3 linked regions of the Homo sapiens genome follow. The protein of the gene in region 1 interacts with the protein of each later gene in a biochemical or structural test. Each region holds a gene or a part of one and is shown in the gene's direction. Other genes may lie near its edges.

The links.
Region 2: of the proteins of SPTAN1 (region 1) and CAPN1, one has a biochemical effect on the other in vitro, tested with the Homo sapiens proteins (one study listed by BioGRID).
Region 3: the proteins of SPTAN1 (region 1) and SHANK1 form a complex in vitro, tested with the Homo sapiens proteins (one study listed by BioGRID).

The regions. Positions count from the first base shown.
Region 1 is NC_000009.12:128,547,693-128,555,621, forward strand, and holds the start of SPTAN1 (spectrin alpha chain, non-erythrocytic 1), read left to right. Parts: upstream 1-4,894; 5' UTR 4,895-5,004; exon of another isoform or gene 5,005-5,619; intron 5,620-7,656; exon of another isoform or gene 7,657-7,674; coding exon of another isoform or gene 7,675-7,707; intron 7,708-7,929. UniProt on the Homo sapiens protein: Fodrin, which seems to be involved in secretion, interacts with calmodulin in a calcium-dependent manner and is thus candidate for the calcium-dependent movement of the cytoskeleton at the membrane.
Region 2 is NC_000011.10:65,177,969-65,184,938, forward strand, and holds the start of CAPN1 (calpain-1 catalytic subunit), read left to right. Parts: upstream 1-3,959; 5' UTR 3,960-4,045; intron 4,046-4,483; exon of another isoform or gene 4,484-4,573; intron 4,574-4,732; 5' UTR 4,733-4,733; coding exon 4,734-5,000; intron 5,001-5,159; coding exon 5,160-5,229; intron 5,230-5,505; coding exon 5,506-5,624; intron 5,625-6,970. UniProt on the Homo sapiens protein: Calcium-regulated non-lysosomal thiol-protease which catalyzes limited proteolysis of substrates involved in cytoskeletal remodeling and signal transduction. Proteolytically cleaves CTBP1 at 'Asn-375', 'Gly-387' and 'His-409'.
Region 3 is NC_000019.10:50,667,736-50,674,836, reverse strand, and holds part of SHANK1 (SH3 and multiple ankyrin repeat domains protein 1), read left to right. Parts: intron 1-2,722; coding exon 2,723-2,819; intron 2,820-5,551; coding exon 5,552-7,101. UniProt on the Homo sapiens protein: Seems to be an adapter protein in the postsynaptic density (PSD) of excitatory synapses that interconnects receptors of the postsynaptic membrane including NMDA-type and metabotropic glutamate receptors via complexes with GKAP/PSD-95 and Homer, respectively, and the actin-based cytoskeleton.

The DNA.
Region 1 (7,929 bases):
CAAACAAGAATGGCAGAATGTTGATAACTGTTGGAGCTGGGTGACAGGCCTATGGAAGTTCACTGTATTAGGGTCCCCAGAGAAACAGACCAATAGGAGACGGATGGATGGACAGGGATATGATGAGATTTAATTACGAGGAATTTATTCATGAGATTATGGAGACTGAGAAGTCCCACAATCTGCCATCTGCAAGCTGGAAACCCAGGAAAGCTGGGGTTGAAATTCTAGTCTAGAGACGAGGTTTCATCATGTTGGTCAGGCTGGTCTCGAACTCCTGACCTCAGGTGATCCACCCTCCTTGGCATCCCAAAGTGCTGGGATTACAGGCGTGAGCCACTGCGCCCAGCCTATAATTCTTACTTAAATGGACTGAGTACCATTCATGTAACCTAAAATTCAGTAACACTTCAAATATTTTCTCAAGTCAATAAGTATTATATCATGAATATAGTCTTGAATTTATGAATCGTAATTAATCATTTTTCACTTGGTGACTAGGTTATGCCTAATATATTTTTTTAAATTATTAACATTCTTTTTTTTTTTTTTTTTTTTTTTGAGACAAGGTCTCACTCTATTGCCTGAGCTGGAATGCAGTAGCACAGTCATGGCTCACTGCAGCCTTGACCTCCCGCGCTTAGGTGATCCTCCCACAGCCTCCTGAGTAGCTGGGACTACAGGCGCAAGCCACCACATCTGGCTAATTTTTGCATTTTTTTGTAGAGATGGGGTTTTGCCATGGTGCCCGGGCTGGTCTTAAACTCCTGGGCTCAAGTGATCTGCCTGCCTCAGCCTCCTAAAGTGCTGGGATTGCAGGTGTGAGCCACCACGCCCGTCCTGAATGAAAATGCATCTTGTCCTGCTTAAGGCAGATTTCTAGATGTAACTAACATTGCTGGGTCAAATGGCATGCAAATTTTATATTTTGATCCACATTGCCAACTGCTCTTCCAGAAAGGTTCTACTTACATATACTCAAAATGGGTAAGATTTTCAGGCAGAAAGGAGGCATGAGTGTTGGGAAAGGATGTTCTAATTGGAGGAAAAAATTGTTCACAAAAGCATGGAGTTGGAGAAATAACATGTTTTGGAAAGAGGCTAACCTCAGACCAGTAGAGCAGAACTGTAGGGAATGATGCTGTGAAAAGGTAAATTGGAACAAGATTGTGGAGGCTGCAAATTTCGGCCTATTCCGTAGGCAATGGGAAACAACTGAAACTTGTTGAGAAGGTTTGACGTGATTTGTGAAACTAACTGTAGTAGTGGGTTCAAGGTAAGCAGGAGGGACACGGACTGACCAGGCCTAGCAGGCAGCCCTGCAAGGGAACAGATGTGAAATGACCGGAGCCAGATTACAAGGTCGGATTAGGGGAGGGGAGGGAGGAGTTTACATCTCTGCTGTCACCTGGAGTCTTAAAACCCTGGTAAGGCCACACTCCCAGAGCCTATCAGGCTGCTTCTCTAATGTGGTGCTTGATTTTAGAAGCAGGGGCTTGTGTTTTGCTTTGTCTTTTGATTGTAGTAAAATATATAGAACATAAAAAGTTTAACCTTTTTTTTTTTTTTGAGACGGAGTCTCAATCTGTCGCCCAGTCTGGAGTGCAATGGCGCGATCTTGGCTCACTGCAACCTCCGCCTCCCGGGTTCAAGCGACTCTCCTGCCTCAGCCTCCCGAGTAGCTGGGATTACAGGTGTGCACCACCACACCCGATTAATTTTTGTATTTTTAGTAGAGGCAGGGTTTCACCATGTTGGCCAGGATGGTCTCAAGCTCCTGACCGCAAGTGATCCGCCCGCCTCAGCCTCCCAAAGTGCTGGGATTACAGGCGTGAGCCACCAAGCCCTGCCTAACCATTTGTAAGTGTACAGTTCTGTGGCATTATGTACAGTCACAGTGTTGTGCAACCATCACCACCATCCTCTCCAGAACTCTCTTTCACCATCCCAGACGGAAACTTTCCCACTAAACAATAATAACCCATTCCTCCCTCCCCTCAGACCCTGGTAACAACAGTTTTTTCTGTCTCTATGAATCTGACAATTTTAGGGATCTCATATAAGTGGAATGGTCATACAGTATTCATCCTTATGTGTCTGGCGTATTTCACTTAGCATAAAGCCTTCAAGGTTCATCCAGGCACTGTGATTTGAAGAGCTGTGTTATTTCTTGCCAGCTCTGACACTGCAGAATGTCATATGGGAAGTGCAGTCCACTTGCCAGCATGACTCTTCCCAATCAGCTCCCTTCTAGGGAAGAAAAATAGTGGAAGTGCTTGCCTGTTATCTTTGCAGGGGGTGAGACAGGGTGTGGAGGGGAGGGGAGGGGAAGGGGTCTCTCCCAGGGAGAGTGGGCAAGTGACTTTCCCTGGCTGGAACATATGGACACATCACCACAATTAGTGTGTTTTCCAACAGTTGACCTTTTCAACAACCTGAAAAAGTATTGGGACTATCTAGACGCTTAAGCTTAGGGTGCCTATCAAACCTTCTGAGGATTGCTGAAACTAGAAAAAGGAGTTGAGAATTCAGTCCAACCCTCTGCTTTTTAGGAGGCCAGGAGAGGTGTGACTGAGAACATGGAGTTGATTGGTTACAAAGTCGTTACACTGTCCTGTGCTTTTTCTGTTGTTGTTTTTTCCCCCAGCTTTCCACACCTACTAGGGTGTTAGGCATATGGTGAAACTGGTGGGAGGTGAGGTAGGCAGACAACAGAACAGTGAAGAATGGCTGGTTTCAAGTGCCAAGTGCAGAGAAGGCAGGGTGAGTGGGTGGGAGGTGGAGAGCGCTGGGGATACTGTTTCTTGGTCATGTCTCAGATCACACAAAGAATCAAATAAGATTTTAGTTTCTCTATCAATACAGAGCTCTCTCTTAGGTCTCCATTTTGCATCCAGCAAAAGCAGCAGAACCCCCAGTTCACTATGGGGCCAGGGTGATTTAATAGAAAAACCCTCCCTTTTGAACAGCTCCTGCCCCTCAGTCCCAAGGTGCTTTCTTTGCTGGAGCAGAAGGTCTTGGAAATTTTAGGGAGCTACAATTGTGTTAGCCATTTTGTACCCAGAGCTGAATATCTGATCAAACATTTTACTGCAACCTGCTGGAGAAGAGGCCACGGATACCATCAGCTGTTCTCAGAAATGCACACTCCAGGGAGGAGTTGCTCAGCGCTGTTTTCTCTACATAGAAGATTGCAGGAAATGCCTCTCAGCTCCTACGTTTCTCCTACACAGATTCTCTAAAGCAGCTTCTGGGGTGTGGTCACTGCTTTTCTCTCCACTCCAATGGAGTGAGTGGGTAGGGAAATTTTTCCTCAGTATCATGGCTACAGCCAGGACAGCTTAGAAACCGTATTGCAGGTCCCAGGCACGGGGAAAGAAGCCAAACTGCAGAGGGCCAGGAAGCTCAGGGCCAGGTCTGGGCCCAGATTCTGGTGCAGTGTCCAATGACTTTATATTTATTTAAAGAGGAGAGCTGCTTGGTAACCAGGAGGCTGAAGCCTTCCTAAGCTGCAGAGCTCCCCGTCTGCCTGACTGCACAGGAATGATCTGGGTGTTACTCCCAGTGGCTGCGGCCCAGCTGTCACCGGAATGGGGATAGGGAAAGGGCTTCCTAATCCAGGGCTTCTGGCTACAGAGTTTAGAGCCAGGACCTTAAACTGCTAGGACTTTAAGTATCAGAAATTCTGAGAATCTTATTTTTCTCTTTCTGCACCCCAGCAGCCACCCGCATCAAAATGCCTCCCTTTCCTATTTGAAGGCAATACACATACGGTTGCAAAGGGAAGGTTCTGACTGCTGAGATGTAAATCCTAGCTCTTCCAATTGGTAGCTGCCTGACCTGGGCCAAGAGACTTAGCCTACATGAGCATTATGTAAGAGTGCCCATTTGTAAAATGGGAAAACATCTCATAAAATTATTGCAAAGATTAAGAAATGAAAAGGTAACACGAAATACTTAGCATAGTGCCTAGTACACAAGGCAAGTTCGATTAATTGTGCCAGAAAGAACCTTAATGTCTTGTTTATGAAATAGGATGAATGTAGCCTATTCCACTGGCGACCTGTGAGAAAGCTTTTGTTGCAGGAATGTAAGAAATTATTATTTTGCCGCTGCCGTTTCCTCCCCCATAATCTCCAAGAACATAAGAAATTAACTCTCCAAATCCCAGAATGACAGCTTTATGCCCCAAATTAGTCGACTTAATTTTTTTTCTGATTCGGATTTGGCCTTTTCCTCTCACCACCTCCTCAAACCCGGGGCCCCAAATCATCCGCGTCTTCTTGACCCCAGCCCCCACCGAATTAGGCTGACTTGGGACCCCAGCGCCAGCCTCCTCCTCGGGAAAGTGAGCAGGAAGAGACGCACTCGGGTGATCTCACCCTTTGGGACTGGGCGTTTTTCCGGCCGGGGCGCGCAGCATCCCCAGCCAGACTGCAGCGATACCCCCGCCCCGCCCTTCTCCGCAGTCCTGGAAGAGCTCCCAGGGCGGAGTGGTGCGATGCAGACGACTGTCCGCAGGGCGGGCGGTGGCGGGGCGCAAGCTGCGGGGAGGGAGGTGAGGCGGGAGCGTCTCTACCGCCAGGGCGTAGGCAGTGACCTCACTGCACCATCACCCCTCACCCCTTGCGCGCGCCCCATTTCCCCATCCTCCCGCGGCCCGCCCCTCGCTCACCTCTTCCCCCGCATTGTCGCTTCGGCTCCTTCCGGGATCGCTCGGCCCTTTCCGCCGGGCGGTCGGGCGGCGAGCCGGCGGGAGCACCGCCCCCTTTGCTCCGCCGGCGCGCTCCCCCACCCCTCGCGCAGCGCCGGGGCGCTTCCCCCGGCGCTCGCGCCCGCCCGCCGCGGGAGCGCGCGTAGCCGCTTATAAAAGAGGCGGGGCGCGCGCGTCGCCGCCACTACCCGCTGCGGAGTGAACGGTGTGGAGCGGAGGCCGCGGAGGCTCCTCGGTCCTTCAGCACCCCTCGGCCCGACGCACCCACGCCCCTCACCCCCCGAGAGCCGGTGAGAGGGGCAGCCGGGGAGCTCCGGGAGGGAGCGGGGCCCCGGGCAGCCGACCCCCGGGTGGGAGCTGGGCAGCTCTTCAGGCGGGGCGGGGCCGGCGCGCGGACAGGTGAGCCGGGCGGGCCGCGGGGCTGCCTCCATTCGGCTGAGTGGGGGAAGCCGCTGCCGCTGCTTTTGTGGCGCGTGGGCTGCGGAGGAGCAGCCGGGCCGAGGCTCGGCGCCGCCGCTGGAATGTCACTGACGGGGGGAGGGGGCGCGAGGCCGCCGGGTCCCTCCCAACCACCCCCAAGCCTGGCTGCGGCGCGGCCCTGCCCTGCCCCATCCGGCTGCGGCAGGTGGGTGGGGGCTCCCTCGTCGGGATCTTCGCCAGCCGCCTCCCTGCAGAACGCTCCCCGCACCGCCCCCGGTCCCTTCCCTCGGCCGGGAGCGACTTCTGCAGCTCGTTCTTCCGAATCGCACCAGCAATGCCGGCCAGCCGTAGAGGGAGGAAGAGCCCGGGGAGCCCGAGCATAGCGTAAACGGCTCTCTGACCTTAATTTCATCCTGCATGGCGAATCTCTGCCGTCTCTCTGAACGCAGAAGGGTCTGAGACTGGCCGTCTCCTTTTCTTTCCTTGTAATAAACATTTTTCTTTCTTCCTAGTTGTGATTTGCTTGTAAATAATAGGTAAATGCAGTGCTTGCATGGTATGTGGCTCAAATCAAATAACTTAATAGCTTAGCGTTCTTGTTTGTGTGTGTGTTTCCTGGGACTGGGTCTTTCGAGTCGAGATACAGTGTCAAAAATTCTACCATACCACTGTTGAATGATAGAACAGTCTTTTGTTTGAAAGCTGTCCCTGAGAATTTGATTAGACGCTTCCCCTAGAACATCGCTTTCAAAAGTCTCTGATGTACTAGAGTAAAATATATTTTAAATAAGCGCCTTGTTAAAAGTTGAATATGTTTTAAATGAAAAGCCTAAATAGCTCAGAAAGCTGGGTTGAGATGATGCTTGAACTGTTCCAACATCTAATCAGATCTCTTTTATATAATAGATCCTAAAATATTTAAGCCCTTTGTTCTGTCTTCATCATGTTATTTTAGAAAAACTTACCATCATGGCTGTTCGGGAAGAACAGGAGAGAGGCCATATGAAGTATTTTCATAATGTGTTGAGAAATTGCGTCGTCATAGCAATTGGCCTTAAGTAAAACAGAATGTATCAAAGATGGAAGGGTGGGGGTGTCTTGGAGCCAGGAAACAGAAAATCTTGGAAATAGCAGGAGGAACACTCAGCTATATGAAGCCATTGAGTCAAGGTTCCGACTCCTTAACTAGTCGTTTATTTTCCCTTTCATTGCAGCTAACTAATGTCTTAGATTTTGAAAGGTCAAATTGAATGTGCTGCGGAGGAAAAAAAAAGTGCTGCAGTAAAGGCCTCTGTGCAGGAAATTAACAATAAGCCTTTTTTAGTAACTGGGCCAATAATTACTCAAAGGGACCCTCAAAGTGTGTTAACTGTTATCCAGGGACCTTGATGGAGAGACTGGAAAGGAGGATTTTTGCTTCATCCTGGACAAGTGTGAAGCAGTTCTTATGGCAAACCATCAGCCTAGTAACTGATTCTCTGATATGCTTTGGTCTTGGCAGTGTGTTTTGTAGTCATCTAATAATTGGAGAAATCTGGTATGTCACAGGCTGCAGTGTAAGCCTGTCAAGCAATATGATGAAGAGGTGCACATGGGGAGAGCTGTTTTAAGTATGTCTTTTGGTTCCCTGGGTTAGAATTTTTTCTGCTTTTTCTTACCTGCCTTCATCCAAAGTTGGGGGTCAACTGCAGATCCTGAAAAGTGGATCTCAGGAATAGTCCCCCATGTCCTGTCACTGCTGAATCTACACTAAGAATGGACAAGTGTGTTCAAGGCTGGCCTGCCTTTGTAATCAGTCCTCCGTGGGCTATGCAGGGATCCCACTAGTTACGCACTCATCTGTTGCAGCATATCAGCTGCGGCTGTACTGTAGAAGAATGCAACGCCCTAGTGGCAAATGCTGACTCCAGGAATGCGGAGGAGGAGGAGGACTGCATAGCTCATCACTGGGGGCCACTTGACTGGAGCAGCTGTGCTGCAAACCATCACCTCTCTTCCACCTTTTTTGCATATTCCTCTTGTACCAATTTTGAACAGGAAATAGTATTTTGTAAAGTAAGTGTACTGGCAAACTAGGCCCAAGTCAGATCTTTGTGGCTTGAGTTCTACTTTGTGGCAATTTCATGAAGTCATGCTCTTTTATTGCTGAATGGAAGGGGATTTAGGAATCATCTTGTCCTGGGATCCTCAGGAGGAAGGCATGTTTAGTTTGAAAAAGTATATTCGGTATTATTACTTTAACAAGTGGGGAAATTGAGGCCCCAAGGAGAATGAGACTTGACCAGGGCAGCATATCTAGAAAGTAACTGCCAAGACCTGGGAACCTTGGTTCTCCTTCCACATTTTAAATCCCTTGTGGGATTTAGACGCTATACAGAATGTCAGAGAGAAGACACTGAAAAAATATCTGAAATTGGATTTTTAATCTGTATTCATATTTTTTAAATAATCTGTTTTCTTCATGATTTTGTTCCGTTTGCCCTTAGAAGCTTGTTATCTTGCTCTTCCCCCTCCCTCTTTAGACTCCACATTCCTCCATCATGTTGTCATCGTTTCGTAAACGCAGAGTCCAGGTATTTGACGAGCATGCAGAAAACGGGTTGCCTTTTTGGTTTTGCCTGGCTTGCAGTGAAGGCATATTCGTGTCAAAGAGGTTGAATGATCCAAAGAAAGGGGGAAAAAAACCCTGCCTGCATGACGTTTCTGTTAAACAAATTGGTTAGGATTTGTTTGGGGTTTTTTGGTGTTAAATTATCAGAAGTATTAGTAAATTTACTTGAAAATTTGCAAAGCCT
Region 2 (6,970 bases), on another chromosome or scaffold:
ATCTACTACATTCCTGCCTGTATTTGAATCTGTTTCTAAATTTCTCTGTCTTCTATTGATCTCTATGTGTCAGTAACCCTCTTTAATTATTACCTTTTAATGATAGATTTGTTGTGTTTTAATATCTGGTAGGATTAGTCTATACTCATTATGTCTTTTATTTTCAGAAGTTTCCTACTTGTTTAATTTGCCATATGACCTTTAAATCAGCTTTTCTAGTCCCTCCTTATCTCCCACCAGAAGACTCTTAAAATTTTTCATTGTGATACACTTAGAGATTAATTTAAGGAGAATTGACATCTATATGAAGCATCTTCATATGAAGACCAAGGTGTCAGCCCCCTTGCCTCTGCTTTTTGGTGGCTAGTGACTCCCAAATTTGTACCTCTATTTTGAGCACAAGGTCTGTTCCTCACCCCTAGGAATCTCCTCTTGGATAGGGGGATCCCAAAGATACCCCATACCCTGATCCCATACTGTCCCTCCAGCTTAGTGCATTCCCCCTTCTCTTTAATCTACTCAGGTGCTCAAGCCAGATCCAGGGTCTGAAGTTGTCTTTGGTCTCTCCTGGTGTCCAAGAGCCATATCTAACCAGTGACTAAGTTCTATTTTTTTTTTTTTTTTGAGACGGAGTTTTGCTCTTGTCGCCCAGGCTGGAGTGCAATGGTGTGATCTTGGCTCACTGCAACCTCCATCTCCTGGGTTCAAGTGATTCTCCTACCTCAGCCTCCCTAGTAGTGGGGACTACAGGAGCCCACCACCACGTCCAGCTAATTTTTGTATTTTTTAGTAGAGACAGGGTTTCGCCATATTGGCCAGGCTCGTCTCTCGAACTCCTGACCTTATGTGATCCGCCCACCTCAGCCTCCTAAAGTGCTGGGATTACAGGGGTGAGCCACTGCGCTCAGCCTGTGGTATATTTGTAATCACTGATGAACCAATATTGACACAATATTATTAATTCAAGTCCATAGTTTACATTAAGGTTCACTCTTAGTGTTGTACATTCTGCAGGTTTGGATAAATGCATGTCATGCATCCGTCATTACAGTATCATACAGAATAGTTTCGCTGTGCTAAAAATGCCCTGTGCTCCATCCCTCTCCTACCCCTCTGAATCCCTGGCAACTGCTGATCTTTTTACCATTGCTAGTTTTGCCTTTTCTAGAACGTCATATAGAGTTATTGGAATCATACAGTATGCAGCTTTTTAATACCAGCCTCTTTTACTTAGCAATATGCGTTTAAGGTTATGCTATGTCTTTTTGTAGCTTGATGGCTGATTTCTTTGTATCGCTAAATTTTAAAGAAATTGCCAAACTGTCTTCCAAAGTGGTGGTGATCATTTTACCCTCTCTTGGTGTATGACAGCTCCAGTTCTTCTATATCCTTGACAACATAACAACACTTGGTATGGTTGATCTTAACTTTTAGCCATTCTAGTAGGTGTTCTTTTAGAAGCAGTCCTTCTAGTGGCTTTAATTTGCATTTCCCTAAGAGTAATGCACTCAGTGTTTTTTAATGTGCCTATTTGCCATCCAGAGATCTTTTTGGATGAAGTGTCTGTTCAAATGTTTTGTCCATTTTTTGACAGGCGCGGTGGCTCACCCTGTAATCCCAGCACCTTGGGAGGCAGAGGCGTGCAGATCACTTGAGGTCAGGAGTTTGAGACCAGCTTGGCTAACATGGTGAAACCCTGTCTCTACTAAAAATACAAAAATTAGCCTGGTGTGGTGGCGGGCGCCTGTAATCCCAGCTACTGGGGAGGCTGAGGCAGGAGAATTGCTTGAACCCAGGAGGTGGAGGTTGCAGTGAGCCAGGATCGCGCCACTGCATTCCAACCTGGGTGATGGAGCGGGACTCCATCTCAAAAACAAAAACAAACACCAGAAAACAAACAAATGTTTTGTCCATTTTTATTGGATTTTTATTCAATTGTAAAAGTTCTTTATACAAGTCCTACATCAGATAGAATTTTTACAAATATTCGTCCTAGTCTATGGCTTATCTTTTCATTTTTAATAGTTTCGTGCATTTTGAGAAACAAAAGCGTTTTATTTTGATGAAGTTCAATTTATTGATTTCTTCTATCATTTACACTTTTTGTGTCATATTTAAGAAATCTGGCCAGGTGCCAAAGCTCACACCTGTAATCCCAGCACTTTGGGAGGCTCAGGCAGGAGGACTGCTTGAGCCCAGGAGTTCATGACCAGCCTGAGTAACACAGCAGGACCCCATTTCTACAAAAAATTTAAAAATTAGCTGTGTGTCGTGGCACGTGCCTGTAGTCTCAGCTACTCAGGAGGCTGAGGTGAGAGGATCTCTTGAGCCCAGGAGTTTAAAGTTACAGTGAGCTGTGATCAGGGCACTGCACTCCTGCCTGGTCAATGAAAGCAAGACCCTGCCTTTAGAAAAGAAAAAAGAAATCTTTTCAAACCCAATATTGTTAAGATTGTCTCCATTTTTAAAAAAAAAAGTTTTATGGTTTGGCCATTTATATTTAGGTGTGTAATCCAGTTTGAGTTAAATTTTGATGGTGTATCCTAAATAGTTATCAAATCCATCTACTTCTGCCTGCCACCTCTCTAGTTTAAACCACCCTTCTCTGTCCCTGGACACCTGCGCAGAAAGCCTAGGAGCTGGTTCCACCCATCACTCACCAGGTTAGGTATTTCAGGCAAGTCACACCCTCTCAGGCCTCAGTTTTCCTCTTTTGTTAACTGAGGGTGAAAGTGGGGTTAGATTAGATCAGCGGCTCTTAACTTTTGAGGGGTCGTGGGCCCTAGAGTCCTGGGAACGCTATGCAGTTTCCTCAGCAAAATGCTTGCATCCACAACATGCAAGACTGCAGCAGCTGCTGGGCTGGGGCTGCGAGACCAGCGAAAAGCCCTGACTTGGGGGGGTCTCGGGAGTCTCTGCAGTCTCCCCACCCACACCCCCGGCCTCCGCGCCGAATCCTGGCCCCCCAACTTCTTGCAGCCCGTGAAGCAGGATCTCAGGGTCCTGGGGGTGGGGAGAGGGGGCTGCCGTCCTGCTCGCAGCCTCTGCCGCCCTCTCCTGGGTAAGGTGACACATGGGCGCTTCCAGGTGGGTGGGCTGAGAGCCTGGGGGAGAGAACAGGGATGTCCACCTCTCTAAGTTTCCAGGTTCAAGAAACCCCAGAACGTTAGAGAAAGATGGGCTCCCACAATTGCCCAACCCCATCCCATAGGATGCACGCATGCGGAAAGTCGGGCCGAACGGGGCAGGGACTTACCCAAGGTCACGCAGCGAGCCCGGTCCCCCTGCGTTCCCCGGGGAGCGCTGAGCCGGGACGCGGCGGTGGGGTGGGGAAGGGGAGTGGCGCGGCCCTGCGGGGTGAGGCTGCCGTTTGCTGAGTGTCCGGCAGGGGTCTGCTCGCTGCCAGCCCGGCCCCTCCTCAGAGCAGCTGCCGCAGCCCGAGGTAATCTCGGCCCCGCGCCGGGGCTGGCTGGGAACGGCGGGAGCAGCTGCGGTCGCGCGGAGCGAGGGGAGCTGGGGACCGGGCGGGCCCGGGGCTGCGGGAGGCGGCGCCGCCGCACAATCGCCCCGGAATGCCCGCCAGGGCGCGCGTGGGGTGCGGCCGTCCGGCCCTGCAACTCGAGCTGCTGCCCCTGGTTAAAAATACCCCCTGCCCGGCCCTCCCCCTCCGTTCCCCGCGGTGCCCTTCCGCCGCGCCCCAGCCCCCCCATCCCCCCCCGCGCTGGCCCCTCCCCGGGGACTGCTCTGCCTTTTACTAATTTGTCCTCTCGCGGAATTGGCCCCCGGCCTGCGGAGGGAGGGGCGGGGAGACACCGTGAGTAAGAGATAGTCAGAGACCGTGCCGGAGAGATAAGGGAGAGCCGAGAGGAAGCGGGGTAGGAGCCCCAGGAGGAGGAGGAGGAGAAGGAGAGAGGGAGGGCGGAGGGCGGAGGGGCGGCGGGAGGAGGGCGGGGAGGAGCGCTCTTCCTGGTTGGGCCCTGCCCTGAGCTGCCACCGGGAAGCCAGCCTCAGGGACTGCAGCGACCCCCAAACACCCCTCCCCCAGGTAAGAAGCTGGGTAGCCGAGCCGGGATTCCTTGACCCTGGCCACTGCTCCTGGGCTGAGGGGCTGCCCCAGCACGGTCCCTTCTCGGGGGCCTCTGCGTTCCTGGAGCAGGGGTGGGGGCTGGCGGAGCGGCACAGCCCAGGCGCCTGTCCCAGCCTGGCTCACCGCTGTCCCCAGGGGCTGGGCTAGGGCCCACCAGCTCTGATATCGAGCCTGCTGCGGGGGCCTGAGGAGGGGGACCCCGACCGTCTGGGGTTTTCAGCCCACGGCAAGGGGCCGGTGCACCAGGAGCTTGGTTAGTTTGGGGAGGGGGTTGCAGGCCTGTGAACAGGATCAAAGAGGCCTTCCCTGCTGTGTCCCACCTGCCCAGTTCCTTGTGCTGTCTGGAGGCTCCGCCCTGCCCCACCTGACCTGCTGGCTCACTACAGAGCTGCAAGCCCCTGACAATGGGATCCGGGAAAGGAGAGGTGGCCGGCACGCCTGGGAACTGGGAAATCCCTTTCCTGGATTCACTGGGAGCACCGGGAGGTGGCTGAGAACCCTACTTCTGTGAGGGGAGCAGTGAGGCAGGGAAACCCTAGGTTTGGGGATGGATAAGCAGGGGCAGGAGAGCAGAGCTTGCAGGCAGGAGCCCAGGTTCTAGTCTTGGGAAGGCCTGGGTTCTGAGCAGGCCCATCTGTCCGGCAGGATGTCGGAGGAGATCATCACGCCGGTGTACTGCACTGGGGTGTCAGCCCAAGTGCAGAAGCAGCGGGCCAGGGAGCTGGGCCTGGGCCGCCATGAGAATGCCATCAAGTACCTGGGCCAGGATTATGAGCAGCTGCGGGTGCGATGCCTGCAGAGTGGGACCCTCTTCCGTGATGAGGCCTTCCCCCCGGTACCCCAGAGCCTGGGTTACAAGGACCTGGGTCCCAATTCCTCCAAGACCTATGGCATCAAGTGGAAGCGTCCCACGGTGAGAGGGGCCATCCTGGGTGGGACTCGGCTAAGCCAGATCCTGGATGAGGAGTAGGGATGGGACTCCATGTCCCTGGTGGGGAATGGGGTCTGGGGTGGCCTGGTGCCAATTTCTGGGAGGGGCTGGCCGAGGAACAGGACTCTGGGTCTCTCGTAGGAACTGCTGTCAAACCCCCAGTTCATTGTGGATGGAGCTACCCGCACAGACATCTGCCAGGGAGCACTGGGTAGGCCCCCAGGGCGTCGGGTCCCGGGTATTTTTTCCACAGTAGTTCCCCATTCCCGCTCCTTCAGGCTCTGCCCCAACCCCTCCCTCTTGCAAGCCCAGGCAGGATCTGGCTATCAGCGCTGGGGCTGGTTTGCCCAGATTCCTGGGTCTTTTCTGCAAGCTGAGGGGAGTTAAGTGGCACCCTGGCCAAGGAACCCCAGATTCTCCCTAGCACCCGCTTCCCCCCCCGGGGCAGGTTGGTAGAGCAGGCTAATGTGCATCCCTCCTGCCCCAGGGGACTGCTGGCTCTTGGCGGCCATCGCCTCCCTCACTCTCAACGACACCCTCCTGCACCGAGTGGTTCCGCACGGCCAGAGCTTCCAGAATGGCTATGCCGGCATCTTCCATTTCCAGGTGAGGGCTCCCCTGGGGAGGAGGGGCAGCAGGCACTGGGGGAGATGCGGAAGGATGACCCACAATACCTGCAGTTAGGGCCACACCCTGTGGGGCCAGCCCTCCCTCTAGCAGGTATTTGACCTCTCAGTGCCATCTCGGGTCTGTCATGTGTGAAGTGACTGGGCTGGGCAGGTATTTCGGCTGGCAGTTTTCCTAGGTGGTTGTATGTATCAGGTGGAAAGTGCTTGAAAGAACAGAAAGACTTTTGTGTTATATCCTGTGGGACAAATTCCACTCCTCCCGGAGGTCGGTCTCAGTTGCCCCATCTGAGAAAGGAGTGTTCGCTGGGGAAAACAGATCAGCACGTGTGGCCTTCTCCACGTGTCAAGCCTCCTATCCCCCAACTCCTCCTGCGCTTTGGCAAGGTCTGACTGAGCCCAGCAGAAAAGAAAGACTCGGGATTAAGTCTACGTAAACCAGCTTTTCCTGACGGTGTGCCCAGGGCCCATTTTTCAAGTCACACCAATCAATTCTCAATGAGCTGCCTTTGGGAGGGACATGCCCAGCAACCCTGGATGAGACTCTCCAGCCTTGGAGGCCCCAGCCCTGCCCGAAGGACTCTTGGGTGTTCCCTCCTTCTGCCTGGTTAGAGAGCCCCTTACCCTACTCTGTCCTTGCCCGCCTTGCGCGGGTGGAGGTGGCCCTCGGAACCCAGGGTGCGGAACCCACAGTGCGGATCCACTTTGGCCCAGCGCCACACCCACCTGCTCCAGTCTGCAGGGGCGCAGTCTCGCCCCCTTCCCTCGCTCCTCCAATCCGCTCCTCCCTGGCCTCCGATTGGCCAGTTCAGTACCCGCCACCCACACTCTCCGCAACCTGGGCTCCTAGGGCCGCCTCCACCCCGCCCCGCCCCCCGTTGTCCTGGCCCCGACCCCTCAGATGGTACCTCGAGTCCTTGGTCGCTTCTGACCCCAGACGCCTTCGGCCCCGACCCTGCCCTGGGAAACGTGGCCTTTGTGGCATCTCAGAAACAAAGCCCGTGATTGTGAGAACCAGTCCTGCCCATCTTGTGGTTGTAGGATCTGGATGCCACATTTTCACTGCTCATCCAATGACACAGGTGCCCCTAACCCCCTTGAATAGGGAGGGAAGAGCCAGGGGGCCATGGCCTAAAAGGGGGCTAGTTCCGGAAAGCCCAGGCCCCAGAGCTTTTCCACCTCTCCGTGCCTGAGGAGGAACCCTGTTTGTTCAGTGACTCCCTAAAGGCTTTGCCTGTGCTCTTGTTTAAGTCTTCCGTGAAGAAGGCACCGCTGCTCCTTTTTATGGATAGGGAAACTGAGGCTCAGAGGCGATAACTTTTCCAG
Region 3 (7,101 bases), on another chromosome or scaffold:
GCCCACCTTGGCCTCCCGAAGTGCTGGGATTACAGGCATGAGCCACCGTGCCCAGCAATTTTTGTAATTTTTATTTTTGTAGAGACAGAGTCTCCCTATGCTGCCCAGGCTGGTCTCAAATTCCTGGGGTCAAGCGATCCTCCCTAATGTTGAGATTTCAGGCATGAGCCACCACGTTGGCCTGAAATGTACAGTTGAATGGCTAGTGGCTGCTCTAGGGGGGCACTGCAGGCCTAAAGGAAGCGGGTAGCCGGGCCAGGGTGGAGGGCTAAGATAACAGAGCTTTCCCAAGCAGAGCCCAGAGCCCAGGGAAAGGATGCTCCATGCAGAGTCTCGGAAGTGAGAAGCGAGGGAACTGGGAATGGTTGTGAATGGCTGGAGGAAAGAGGCAGGAGGGGGTATAGTGGGAAGTGCAGGAAGTAAGGGTTCATCCCAAAGGTGCGAACTTCATTCCGAGAGGGCTCCCTTTCTCTGCACTTCTGGTCTCAAAGATGGAGAAGGGAGACACATGGGGTGACCTGGCAGAAGCTGGGGAGTCAGGGCCCCGAAGTGCCTGACCTTGGCTGATTCTCCCTGTTACTCATCTAACACTTGCTTGTAGAACAGCAGGCCCTATGCGGGGACCGGGGACTCAGTAGGAAAGGAGACTGATAAAGTCACTACCCTACCCTCAGGCAGGTTTCATAATGACTTCCATGAACCTTAGGCACTTTTGCCCTTCTGCATTAAAAAAAAAAAAAATAGGCCAACACGGTGGCTCATGCCTGTAATCTGAGAACTTTTGGGGAGGCCAAAGTGGGAGGATCGCTGGAGCCCAGGAATTTGAGATGAGCCTGGGCAACATAGCAAGAACTCGCCTCTGCAAAAAAATTTAAAAATTAACTGGATGTGATTGTGCCTGCCTATAGTCCCAGCTACTCAGAAGGTTGGGGTTGGGATCGCTTGGGCCCGGGAGGCCAAGGCTGCAGTGAGCCGTGTTAACGCCACTGCACTCCAGCCCTGTCTCAAAAAAAAAAAAAAAAGTTTAAATTTTATGACTTTGTTGCTGCAAAGACCGATATTATCCAGGGTACAATTTTCTCTTTTCTTTTTTTCTTTCACTTCTACTTTGAAAAGAAATGAAAACACTTCCCCTAAAAGCATCATGGGCCCTAGACACTGTAGGTGCGATGCCTGGGATACATCAGCCCCGCCTTCAGGGAGTTTCTAGGCTAGTGGAGGAAACAGACAGCAAGTAAACAAGATGGTTTCTGGGGAAGAGAGATGCTGTGAAGAAAATGGGACAGAGGGAAGTGCAGTCTGGGTAGGGGGCCGGGGAAGGTCTCGCCGAGGAGAACTTCGCGCTGAAAAGGAACTGTGACAATAAGAGGGAAAGCTGTTGCCGAGAGAACCAGGGCTCGCAGGTGTTCTCCAATGAGGGTAGACCTGGGGCTGACAGAGGAGAAGGAAGAGGTGGGGGTGGAGGTGGACCAAGGGAGCAAGTGGGAAATGGGGGCAGGGCTGGGTCCCGCCTGCAGGACCTGTCTTCGTGTGGGCTTCCCTAGAACGGGAGCCGGAGGTGGGGATTCCTGTACCAAGGGTTTGCTACGGGGGAACCTTCAGGGAGTGTGGGAGACTGGCTGGGGTTGTGGAAGGAAGTCAAGCAGACACGGTTCACGCTGGAGTGGGAACCCATGGGGTCAGGCTGGGCACCCCGGCTTTAGTGCTGCCTCGGGCCTCCGTATCCGTCCATCGTGGGCTGTGGGCTGCTCCAGGAAGCAGGGACACATAACGGACTGGGCGAGTCCAGGACTCTGAAGGAGGGTGATTCTTAAGGGCTGCAGGCAGGTGACCCTCCCAGCAGTGGGTGAGGGATGGGATGCTGCATCCAGGGGGAGGGCAGCTGCAGGGGCACCAGCAGTGCCTGCCATAGAGGGTCTTGTAGACCAGAGTTGGGAGTTTGGTCCCCTCTGATCTCCTCCTAACTGACATGGGATTTCAAGCAGGGGCAATAGCATGCTTTTTGAAAGATGCCTCTGACTCTTGTGTGGAAAACAGACTGGAACAGGGTGGGGGATCAAGGATGGCAGCAGGGAGATGAGGGAAGAGGCTGCTCCATCCCGGAGAACACTGGTGGGGACCTGGATGTGGGCAGTGGCTGGAGGAAGGAAGCAGATCAAGAGTCGATGGAAAATCTGCTTTCTTCTCCTTTCTTTCTCCTTCCTGCCCAGACTTGAGGCTTTTCATTCCCGCAGAATTCCCTTTCGCCTTCTTTTCTTTTTTTTTTTTTTTTTTTTTTTTTGAGACAGAGTCTGGCTCTGTCGCCCAGGCTGGAGTGCAGTGGTGTGATCTTGGCTCACTGTAGCCTCCACCTCTCCACCTCATGGGTTCAAGTGATTCTCAAGCCTCAGCCTCCCGAGTAGCTGGGATTACAGGCGCCTGCCACCATGCCTGGCTAATTTTTGTATTTTTAGTAGAGAGACGAGGTTTTGCCATGTTGGCCAGGCTGGTCTTGAACTCCTGACCTCAGGTGATCCTCCTGCCTCAGCCTCCCAAAGTGCTGGGATTACAGGCGTGAGCCACGTTGCCCGGCCTCCTTCCACCGTCTTCACACTGCTCTCCCTTACGGCAGGGGCTTAGGGAAGGAATGGGGGCAGCCGTATAGTGAAGCCACAAGCCTTTCTGCGCTGACTGATCTCTCTCTATCTTTTCTCTCTCTCCCCCTCTGACTGCCGCTCCAAAGTCGAGCTTCGATCCCCACCACCGTGCCCAGCCAAGTTACGAGCGTCCTTCTTTCCTGCCTCCAGGACCTGGGTTGATGCTCCGGCAAAAATCTATCGGTATGCCACCCAGAAGAAGAGATGTGGGGGCTGGGGGAGGCCAGGAACGTGACAGTTCAGGAAAAGCAAGCAGACTTGGAAATGTTCTGTGCTCCCAGAGAGACCATAGTTTCATCAAATTGGGTTAAGAGTTCAGGCTTTGGAAATGGGTGAACTTGGCCATGAATCCTGGCTCCCCTCCTTCCCAGCTGTGTGAACTGGGGCAGGTGGCTTGACTTCTCTGGGCCTCTGGCTCTACATCTGGAGAATGGGGATGCAGTGAGCTAAAGCCCCCGCTACAGCTTTCTGGTTGTTTCTCTTATACCCGATTCCATCCATTCATTCATTTTACAAGTGTTTACCAAGCGCTCCCCACATGCCAGGAATTGTTCTAGAATGGGGATACGTCAGCGAATAAAACAGACTAAAGGTTCCTGCCCTCATGGGCTTGCCTTATAGCAGGGGAAGACAGATAATGGATTATAAGGAAAATAAGCAAGAAAATTATCTAGTATGTTAGCAGTTGTACGTGCTATGGAAAACAAAAAAAAGAGTGGGCCGGGCGCAGCGGCTCACGCCTGTAATCCCAGCACTTTGGGAGGCCGAGGCAGGCAGATCACAAGGTCAGGAGATCGAGACCATCCTGGTTAACATGGTAAAATCCCATCTCTACTAAAAATACAAAAAATTAGCCGGGTGTGGTGGCGGGCACCTGTAGTCCCAGCTACTCAGGAGGCTGAGGCAGGAGAATGGCGTGAACCCGGAAGGCAGAGCTTGCAGTGAGCCGAGAACGTGCCACTGCACTCCAGCCTGGGCGACAGAGCAACCCTCTGTCTCAAAAAAAAAAAAAAAAAAAAAGAGTGAAAAAAAATAATGGAGTAAGGTAAGAGAGATAGGGAGTGCTGGGTAGGGGGCAGGGTGCAGGTTTGAGCTAAAACCTATAGATGGGCCAGGCACAGTGGCTCACACGTGTAATCCCAGCACTTTGGGAGGCCGAGGCAGGCGGATCACAAGGTCAGGAGTTCAAGACCAGCCTGACCAACATGATGAAACCCCATTTCTACTAAAAATACAAAAATTAGCCAAGCGTGGTGGCATGTGCCTGTAATCCCAGCTACTCAGGAGGCTGAGGCAGGAGAATAGCTTGAACCCGAGAGGCAGAGGTTGCAGTGAGCAAAGATCGCACCATTGCACTCCAGCCTGGGCGACAGAGCGAGACTCTGTCTCAAAAAAAAAGAAAAGAAAAAAAAACACCTAGAGATGAAGTGGGGAATCGTGAGGCTCCCTGGGGTTGAGGCATTCCAGGCAGAGCGAACTACCTCTGCAAAGGTCCTGAGGTCGGGCTGAGTCTGGTGCGTTTACAGAACAGGGAGGAGGCCTGTGTAGCAGGGGCCAAGTGAGCACTGGACATGAGGGCAGTGGGGGGACAGGGTCCCGATCCTGCAGGGTCTGGGGAGTCATGGTGAGGACTTGAACCTTTGCCCTGAGTGAGGTGAGTGAATGGCAGGGCTCTAAGCAGAGGAGGGACATGAGCTGACTTCGGTTTTAACAGAAACCCTCTGGCTGCTGTGAAGGGACTAGATTGAAGGGGATGAGCTGGGAAGCCGGGGGACCAAAGAGGAGGTGACAGCTATTGCTATCCAGATAGGAAATGATAGTGGCTGGCCCAGGGTGTTGACTCTGGAGGGGTGAGAAGGGATTGGATTCCGGATATGTTTTGAAACAACAGGATTTGCTGGTGGATTGGATGTGGGTGACTTGAGGAAGAAAGCTAAGAGTGGCTGCAAGGTTTTCAGTCTTAGCACCTGAAAGGACAGAGCTGCTGTTTGCTGCGGTGGTGGGGAGGGACCGTGGGCTGGGAGGAGTCTGTTGGTGAGGAGATCAGGAGCTTGGGTTGGAGCGTTTGGAGTCTGAGATGCCCGTGAGACAGCCAGCTGGGTGTGGGTATTTGAATATAGGGGCCCAGAGCTCAGGGCGGAGGATGGGGCCCCAGGCATAAACGTGGGCGTCGACAGCAGAAAGGCAGTGAATGAAGCTGGTCACTAGTTGAGAGGGAGTAGTCAGAGGTGAGAAGAGGTTCAAAGACCGAGCCTTGGCAGTGAAGTAAGCAAAGACTTAACTCCTGCACGCCTCCTGGAGTTGTTTTTCCCTGATTGGATTCAGCTTTCCCCAACTCCTGGCGTTCAAAGTCCACCAGTGTGAGTCTTACACTCCCACTGAGTGTGGGGTCCACCTGGCTCGCATCGTTTACCTGATTTTTTTTTTTATAGATCCAATCCCTTTTAAACTTTAGCCTCATCATAAGTGGTTCTCTCTGTAGAATCACAGCTTTGATGTGCTGGTTGCATTTCTTTCCCGCATATACGTGAAAAGAAACACGCATCTATGCATAAACACGAGGGGACTATCCCTTCCCAGCTCCAGCCACTTTTGCTGGCCCCAAACCGTTCACTGAGCCTTTGAACGGAATTAGAAAATGGCGCCCCCTCCTGGCGTGGGGAGGAAGTTCTGCTGAATTTCAGTTTCCTCACCTTCCTTGCGGTTTGCAGTTGTGCAGTGCACAACCTGTACCTCTGTATGAAGCAGATTTGGGTTTACCTCAAATAGGGAAGAGCTGGGCGAGTCCACGTGAAGTTCCTGGCATATACGGGGTGCCATTCTTGTCATTAGTATTGTTGCGGTTCTATGGGATAGTGGAGCAGGGAGACCCTCCCCGCCAGGGTCCCCCTCCTTGAGCCTCTGTATCTCCCCAGGTGCGGCAGAAGATGACAGACCTTACCTAGCACCCCCAGCCATGAAATTCAGCCGCAGCCTGTCTGTGCCTGGTTCGGAGGACATTCCCCCGCCACCCACCACGTCCCCACCGGAGCCTCCCTACAGCACACCTCCAGTCCCCTCCTCCTCAGGGCGCCTCACCCCCTCCCCTCGGGGAGGGCCCTTCAACCCTGGCTCTGGTGGCCCCCTCCCCGCCTCCTCCCCTGCATCCTTTGACGGGCCCTCCCCTCCCGACACTCGCGTGGGGAGCCGCGAGAAGAGCCTGTACCACAGTGGGCCCCTGCCCCCGGCCCACCACCACCCGCCCCACCACCACCACCACCACGCCCCGCCCCCTCAGCCCCACCACCACCACGCCCACCCCCCTCATCCTCCCGAGATGGAGACAGGCGGCTCTCCCGACGACCCTCCACCCCGCCTGGCTCTGGGGCCCCAGCCCAGCCTGCGAGGCTGGAGGGGCGGCGGGCCCAGCCCGACCCCGGGGGCCCCGTCCCCATCGCACCACGGCAGCGCGGGCGGGGGCGGCGGCTCCTCCCAGGGCCCGGCTCTACGCTATTTCCAGCTGCCCCCGCGGGCGGCCAGCGCAGCCATGTACGTGCCCGCCCGCTCGGGCCGCGGCCGCAAGGGCCCGCTGGTCAAGCAGACCAAGGTGGAAGGCGAGCCCCAGAAGGGCGGCGGCCTCCCGCCCGCGCCGTCGCCCACGTCCCCGGCCTCCCCGCAGCCGCCGCCCGCCGTGGCCGCGCCCTCGGAGAAGAACTCCATCCCCATCCCCACCATCATCATCAAGGCCCCGTCCACCAGTAGCAGCGGCCGCAGCAGCCAGGGCAGCAGCACCGAGGCGGAGCCCCCCACCCAGCCGGAGCCCACGGGAGGCGGCGGCGGCGGCGGCTCCTCGCCCAGCCCCGCCCCGGCCATGTCACCCGTGCCCCCGTCCCCCTCGCCCGTGCCCACCCCCGCCTCGCCCAGCGGCCCGGCCACGCTGGACTTCACGAGCCAGTTCGGGGCCGCCCTGGTGGGGGCGGCCCGGAGGGAGGGGGGCTGGCAGAATGAGGCGCGCCGGCGCTCCACGCTGTTCCTGTCCACCGACGCGGGGGACGAGGACGGCGGGGACGGCGGGCTGGGCACAGGGGCGGCCCCGGGCCCGCGGCTGCGCCACTCCAAATCCATCGACGAGGGCATGTTCTCCGCCGAGCCCTACCTCCGACTGGAGTCTGCGGGCAGCGGCGCGGGCTACGGCGGCTACGGGGCCGGTAGCCGAGCCTACGGGGGTGGCGGGGGCAGCAGCGCCTTCACCAGCTTCCTGCCCCCGCGACCCCTGGTGCACCCGCTGACCGGCAAGGCCCTGGATCCCGCCTCCCCGCTGGGGCTGGCCCTGGCCGCCCGCGAGCGAGCGCTGAAGGAGTCCTCGGAGGGCGGCGGGGCCCCCCAGCCGCCTCCCAGGCCCCCATCGCCCCGCTACGAGGCCCCGCCGCCCACCCCGCACCACCACTCGCCCCACGCCCACCACGAGCCAGTGCTGCGTCTCTGG